Linked DNA regions of Homo sapiens. The protein of the gene in region 2 purifies or fractionates together with the protein of the main gene of each other region. This does not show direct contact. Each region holds a gene or a part of one and is shown on either strand. Other genes may lie near its edges. The genes, in order: P4HA3 and ZDHHC8.

The links.
Region 1: the proteins of ZDHHC8 (region 2) and P4HA3 purify together in Homo sapiens (co-immunoprecipitation; one large-scale study listed by IntAct). This does not show direct contact.

What each region holds. Positions count from the first base shown.
Region 1 is NC_000011.10:74,266,512-74,270,319, forward strand, and holds the end of P4HA3 (prolyl 4-hydroxylase subunit alpha-3 isoform 1 precursor), read right to left. Parts: intron 3,210-3,808; coding exon 3,141-3,209; intron 1,731-3,140; coding exon 1,634-1,730; intron 1,301-1,633; exon of another isoform or gene 1,085-1,300; intron 808-1,084; coding exon 737-807; coding exon of another isoform or gene 550-736; 3' UTR 146-549; downstream 1-145. UniProt on the Homo sapiens protein: Catalyzes the post-translational formation of 4-hydroxyproline in -Xaa-Pro-Gly- sequences in collagens and other proteins.
Region 2 is NC_000022.11:20,141,496-20,145,155, reverse strand, and holds part of ZDHHC8 (palmitoyltransferase ZDHHC8), read right to left. Parts: coding exon 3,626-3,660; intron 2,401-3,625; coding exon 1,400-2,400; intron 1-1,399. UniProt on the Homo sapiens protein: Palmitoyltransferase that catalyzes the addition of palmitate onto various protein substrates and therefore functions in several unrelated biological processes.

The DNA.
Region 1 (3,808 bases), on a different chromosome or scaffold from region 2:
GTTATTATCCATGGTTTTTTTTCAAATATTTTCAATCCGAGGTGGAATCCACAGATGGGGAACACATGGATGTGGAGGGCCAACTGTACTCTCCCTTTTTTCCCACTCAGCATTATAATGTAAGAATATTCTCAGTTGGGAAAAATGATTTATAAACATTTTTAATGACTGTGTTAAAAAACCATCATACAAAAAGAAAAGAAAGTTGTTTTCAACTTAAAAAAAATCCTTATATAATGTACCACTCATCTGGGATATGCTTCTGGGAGGGGGACACTCCCTGCTTGGGCTGCAGCAGAAGGCAGTGGGGAGAAAGTCTTAAAGTTCTGGGAGTCAGGCTAGCCCCTCCTGCAGGTGTCCTCATTGCCACTTCTTGGTCCCTGTGGTCAAGGTTCAAAGTGCCAAAAGACCCACTGATCGAACCTGAGACTGTTGAGATGTCCTGTTCCCAACAGAGAGTATCTGAACTCCAGAAACTTCCCTCTCAGGCCTCCACTCCCCCCTCCTTTGTACTGTGCATCCTACTCTGACTTCCGTGGCTGGGGCAGATCAAATGTACATTCTCAGTGTCCCCTGGTAACAACCTCTCCCTTGCCTCTGATTTGCGAGGCACAGACAAAGCTGACAAGGCCTTCTTCCAGGAGGCTGCTCTGCTTTCTCCTCTCCTACCCCAGCTTTTGGCTCCTGGCTTCTCTGGAAAGCCACAGGACTCCACCAGCTTCTCTCTGCCAACAGTTCAGTCTTCAGGGCTGGAGCTGCAGGGTCTGCGGAATTCCTGTCCATACTCATGTATCCACTTGTTGGCCACTGGGAGAGAACAGGGAAGAAGGAGACAGCAGGCTCAGCAGAACAGACAGCAGCAATGCTGCAGACTGGTGCGCACTCATAGGCGCGTGTGAGTGCCCCCTTAAATTCTGCATCCTAGGTAACTCACTTGCCCAGCCTAGTCCTGGCCTCACTATGGACTACAAGCTGTTTCTTCCAGCAGATAAATAGCAAAGAGGACATTGTCCTCTGGAAAAAAGTCACAGGTCCTGTCTCCTGTAAACTCATTTTCAAACGTTTGGGAACTAAGATCACTCACCCTTCATTTTAGAAGCCCATGTTCCCCATGAAGCCATTCCAGAGTACTGAGAGAAAAACGGGTGGCATCTCCTGGCAGCCTCCACCTCAGCTTATGAGCCCCCTTCCACTTCTCTTTCTGTTTCAGAGCTAAGTGCTCCTGGATGTATATGTGACATAAACACGTCCATCTGCTTATTGATCTCTTCTTTGTTTTCCCACCTCCTCATGGGGAGCACTAAACAGGAGAGACAATGGCTTGACACATCTTTCCTTGGGGTAGAGTGTGGATGGGACACCATATTCCTCTCTGGCAGTGCTCAGGAATCAAGGCCTATCTGGTCAGGTGAATAAACCTTTACTGACTGTCACTCTGTAACAGGAACCCCTGCCTGTTATAGGCTCCCAGTCTGTTGGGGGCACCTCATTCATAATCTGATCTTCTCAATATAATGTGGCACTGTAATGAAGCGTTTGGAATGGGATGGCTGTGGTAGGTCCCACCCATCCCCTGTTTCACTCTACTCTGCACCCTGTACCCCCTTCTCATGCCCAGAAAGGCAAGACTTACCCCACTTATCTCCCACCAGGACAGGACAGCCAGCATGAAGTGTGTCACTGTCCCCTTCACCACTCCTGTGCAGGTTCCACCAAAACAGTGCTGCATTCTGAAACAAGAGGGCCCAGCCCCAGGGAGGGTCAGCCCAGAACCTCAGTCCTCGGGAAGCACATACTAAGGACAAATGCAGGCATGTCATTGAAGAAGCCTTTCCATGCAGTCTGGGGGCAATGCATGCATAAAATGGCACAAAATGGCATAAGTTGCCATTTACTCCTTCATGCATGGGTCACTGACAGAGTCCCCTGCACCCCAGGTCCTGGGGCTGCAGGGACAAATTACGTCCAGTTCTGCTCTCCAGGAGCTCACAAGAAACAGACATAAAACAGACCTGAACAAGACAGCATGGTGAGTTCTGGGAGAAAGGTGAGCACATTTGTCATTGGGTCACTGAGGAGAAACACCGAACAAAACCACAAGGTGGAACAAAATATTCCCATACAGCCAAGCATGTCATTAACTCAGAAGCTTTTCCTCCCTCAGGCACTTATGATTAACACTTTCAGGGAGCAGGCAGTATCATAATCCCCAGTTTCCTAGCAAAGAACTTGAGGCCCAGGGCTTTAAATAATGCAATAAAAGAAGGAGCAAAGTGAGGACTCAAGCCCAGGTGTTCTGACGCTAAATCCTGTATGTTTTTCCCCCATACACGGCTTCTTTGCCGTATCTACTTCCTGTAGTCAAATTACTTTAACCTTGGTCCTCAAAGTAGACAAAACTCCAGGTCATGAAGAGCTTTCCAGGATGCATTGGCAGTCTCTATGTTCCTAAGCCTACAAGAGGCGTCAAGCTCCTGAGTATTCAGAGATACCTGGCATTGATTATCGAATGCTCAGGATGTGCCAGGCACTGTACTACCTGCTTTACAGGAATGATCTCGTTTAGTTATCTTCATTTCATTCCTAAATTAGGTAAGGGCTGCCAGGGAGTTGGACTGATCTGAAATTTGGAGGAAATACTCATTCATGAAGCAAACCTCTTAGACTCAGTTCTCCTCAGCGCCTATCCTTTCCAAATCCCTATTGCAACATCATAATGCCTGCTGACGTCTCTGTAAACTCCTGGATCAAAGGGCTATGAATTTCCCTCTGCACCCTCCGTGCCTCTAGCTCTCAATGTGGACTGAACTAATGATGGAAGGAACTAGATGCTGTAGAGGATCCAAAGTAAATAAAACAGAGCTCTTATCTTGAGGAGCTGTACTGTGACAGGGAAGACAGACATGTAATCATCTACTTGCAATATAAGTGTAAATAAAATAACAAATAGAGGCACAAGTGACGAGCATGTGTGCGGTAGTAAAGAAGACTATGGGATGATCTGTGATTCTGGGAATTGGGGAAGACCTCTTTTTGGCCCTCCTCCCAGGAATGGGCTTGCAAGCACAGACAGCGTGAAGGTTAGAGGGTAAGCGCTGCACTCCCTCAACCCCGTCTTCTGGGACCAGGGCCCCACTCACCCTAACCACAGGCACGCTGAGGTTGGCATAGATGAAGGCTGTGGCTCCTCCAGCTTCCACCGAGCTCAGCTACAAGACCAGAGGAAGAAGCCAGAGTTAAAACTGCCACCGACTTCCCTACCCTGTCATATGATGTCACATCTGCATAGATTCCTTCTCATGGTCTTTTCTTCAACTCTGAGAGAAATACTTGAAAGACAATCATCCAACTCAGGAGGAACTTCGGGAGCCTACTCAATGGCATTGGTGTTTGCCTACAGGGCCACAAGAGGACAATGTTTTGGTATTCTTCCTTTCTTTCCCTTCCAGCTAACATCCTTATTGAGGGCTACAATAAGTAGATTCAAACTTTTTGACTGAGACCCTTAGGAAAAAATACATTTTAAATAATGACCCAAGACACACACACATACACACACACACAGACACATACACACACACACCTCCTGAAATATAATTGTCATAAAACATTCTTAATATCTGAGATAGCTTCTGATCTTCTCTACTTTATTTTATTCTATTCTAGTGTGGTTCTCTTAAATGCTCATCAGAACCACTAAATTAATCTCACAACCTATAATGGATCATGACTTGTGGCTTGAAAACCAGTTTAGACTATGATTCTTCTTGAAAGCTGGGCATCATAGGAACTACTTATTACACCTTTG
Region 2 (3,660 bases):
AGCAAGACAGAGACGACGCGGACGTGGACTAGTGCAGCCGAGTTGTGGGGCCCCGTGCAGTCCCTGCCCTCTGGGCTTGGAGGGTTCACCTGGAAAGCAGGTGAGGGATGCAGAGCCTGCCTGGGGAGCAGCTGTGCTGTCACAGGACAGACAGATGTTGTCAGAACTGCCACCACCCTCCCGAGTCCCTGGGTCCCTCCTAGCCAGCACTGGCCACAGAGAGCATGGGGCAGCCAGGTGGGCACTGAATGGAGCCCCTGCCGTGCCCTGCACTGGGAGCCCAGCCACTCTGCCTGGCCTCATTCCTGCTCTCTCTCAGGAAAACGAGGGGCTGCCCTCCTGCCCACCAGCGCTGACCAACAGCAGCTGTATCTTTGCTACTTAAACCTTCTTGAGGCGAGAGCCCTTTGTCCCCGGGCTGCGATCCCTGCCTGGCTGCAATGCTGCCCACTTCTAGGTCTCGGGCTCCCCACTCATCACTCCCAGTGGCAGCCTCCTCCCCAACTCCACAAAAGCTGAACAGGTCCCACCCTGTGGGGTAGAGGAGACCCGCTCAGGGCTGGACTGCTGTGCCCTCAGCCCCTTTGTGGCCAAGTGGCCTGGGCTGGGCTGGGCTGGGCTCTCCCTCTGGGGCTGCATCTGCCGACGGGAAACAACTGCGCCTGTGCTTGAGGTTTCCAGGCCCGGACAGGGCGACAGATGCCGTGAGGACACCATGCGTCTGTGGCGTGGGTCCTGGCCCCAGCAGGTGTGCAGCTCTCCTACCTGGACCTGGGCCTGTGAGCCAGCTGACCCCGCCTTCTCAGTCACCAACCTGCCGGGTGCCTGGAGCCAGCCTGCTTTCTCCAGTCCTCAGCTTCCCCACCTACGAGCAGGGAAGCCCCTGCTTCCTAGAACTATGTCCTACAGGGAGGGCCAGGGCCCGGCCACTCAGGGTGGCACATTCTGCTGCTAGGTAATATCCTCAGCCCCAGCCTCCTAGAGATGCAGCCAAGCAGGCCCAGGGAGAGCCCTGGGTGGACAGGGCCACTGTGACCCAGGAAGCCAGAGCCACAGCCTAAAGGAGGCCCAGGCTGCCACATGATACTGGCCCCAAAGAGAAAGCCCCATGGCCTCCCACATGCTGGGTCTGTGCCAGCTCTAGAAGAACGAGTCGTCGGGCTCAGGACACAAATTCTCATACCCTGTCCCCAGAGCGTGCCCAGGACATCCTCAGAGCTGGGCCACACGGGCTAGCCAAGGCCTTCAAGGCAGGGTGAGGCGCATCCTCCCTGTCCCGTCCCCAGAGAAAAACTCAGGCCCCTGGGATGACCTATGAGTGCCCAGCCAAGAGGGGCCCTGGAGACGGCTGGACAGCTGCCCTGTGCCAGGAAGCCCACCCGCACCTCCCGGCACCCACCTCTGCACGGTCAGCGAGGGCGGTGGCTCTGGGAGGTCCGTGTGGATGAAGGCGACAGCTTTGGGGCCCGCGTAGGATGGTGAGTGGGGAGTGCCGGGCGGGGAGGGCAGGCCCTGGCGTGCAGGTGACCTGTGTGAGCCACTGCTGGGCCGGGGCCCCGGGGCGTTGCTGCTGGCCTGATCAGCCTGCAGGGAGGAGGACGACGTCCGCGGTGCACGGCTCACGGAGCTGGACAGCGAGGACAGTGACGTCTGCAGGGCAGGGTTGCGGGCGCCACCGAAGCCGGGCCCAGCCACAAGGTCGTCTCTGGAGCCATAGCGCAGCGCGGGACCTCGGGGGCCCTCGGACAGCACACTGGCCTGCTGCAGGCTGTAGGAGCTGGGAGCGTCATAGACGCCTGAGTCGCCGAAGAGTGAGTCGGCCTGGGAGCGCAGCAGGCGCTCACGCTCCTCCCTGTCCTTGCGCTCCTGGATGGATGCCATGATGGTCCTGGACAGGTTGTCGTAGCGCACAGGCGAGGGCTCCCGGGGGCGGGGGCCCAGCACGGGGCTGAAGCTGCGGGGTAGGGGCCGTGGCGGGTCGCCCGTTGCCCCAGGATGCAGGTAGGGTGAGTGGTATCCGGCCACGCCAACTGCTGGGTGGGCAGGGCAGGCGTGGCCACCAGGCGAGCCAGGATTGAGCAGGCTGTCATAGGACAGGCTGCCGTTGCGGTTGGGCAGTGCATGGGGGGCAAAAATGCTACGGTGGGGCGTGGGGGGCCCCCCCTCAGAGCGCAGGGGCTGCAGGGCCACATGATCCCCGCCCCGCCGGCTCGAGGCCTTGAGGCTCAGGGAGCGCAAAGCGCCCGAGAAGGCATCAGAGGCGCTGAGCGGTGGGGATGGCGGGTAGGCTGCATGCAGGCCCCCTGGCCCATAGTCAGGGAGGTCCAGGCTCGGCTCGGACACAAAGTCCAGGCTACGGATGCTGTCGTCCCCCAGGGTCAGGGAATCAGGGCCTGGAACCTGTAGGGAGAAGGCATTCTCACCACTGCCCACCTGCCACCCCGCCTGCAGCCGCCAGTCAGCACCCACGGGGGCCACACATGGCACCGTGGCCTCAGGAACTGGGCCTCAAGGAGCCATAAGAGCCACATAGTGACCCATGGCCCTGTCCCTGAGCATCCACGGCTGAGGGGCAGGGGCTCTGCAACAGGAGGGAGGCCACAGCTGGCTACTGCAGACACCTGGGGTTCTGCCCTTGGAGCCATGCAGCCCCAGGGGCCCACCACTCAGGGCAGCCAGAGGGAGGAGGAGCCTCGTCTAGCCCCTGTGACGGGCACATAGGCATGGGCTTGGGCTTGGGCTTGGGACAAGAGCCTCAGGAACCACAAAGCCAGAAGTGGATCAGGGCAAATGTGGGCTCAATGCACTTGGCCAACCAGACCCAATCCCCCACTGGACCCAGGAGTCCCAGGAAGATGACATACCCAGAGCCCTCATCTCCAAACAGGGATGCCTCCTCCTGCGAGGCACGGCCCCTACATGCCTGCAGACTCAGACCCTTGGCCAAGGAGGCTCAGACTCACTGCTTCACCCAGTGACTCTCTCCAGGAAAGACATCAGTCCTGAGGGGAGAGGTCCCTGGGGATGGGGCTGGTCTAGGTGCACAGGGCCCAGTCACAGGCCTGCCTCTCGGGGTGGCCCAGAAGGAAGGATGGCACCCTGGGACTGTTTGGTGTTCCTGATCACTGCACAGACCGCCCCGCACTGCCCACCATTCCAGTGACCACAGAGCACTCATGCAACTCAGGGAAGAGAAATGTGCTTTCTCAAGCACGTCTCAAATTCTTCCAAAGTCTTCCCGTGGGCCTTACAGAGTGACTAATGGTGGAATTCCAGGCATCCTGGTACACAGTGCTCCTGGGGGCAGCCGCCCACCTGGCCTAGGGCAATGCTGGCCAAGGGACAGACGCCAAGCCTGGATGGCCCACGCCAGCCCCTCCCAGGACACCCTGCTCCCCTCTGTGGGTCCCAGCTCTGGGTGCACACAGACAGGGTCCTACCAGTCACACAAGGCCCTTGGTGACCCAGGCAGAGCCCTGAGGGGCATGGCCTCAGGGGATGTGGCCTCTGCTGGAGAGATGGGGCTCTGGAGGTGGGGCCTTCACGGGGTGAAGGCTGTGGGGCGAGCTCCTAGAGGCGGGCCTGGGGGACGAGGCCTGCCAGGGGGCAGGCTAGGCCTCCTTACCTGCTCGCCTGGTCCACAGAAGGGCACCTTGGGAC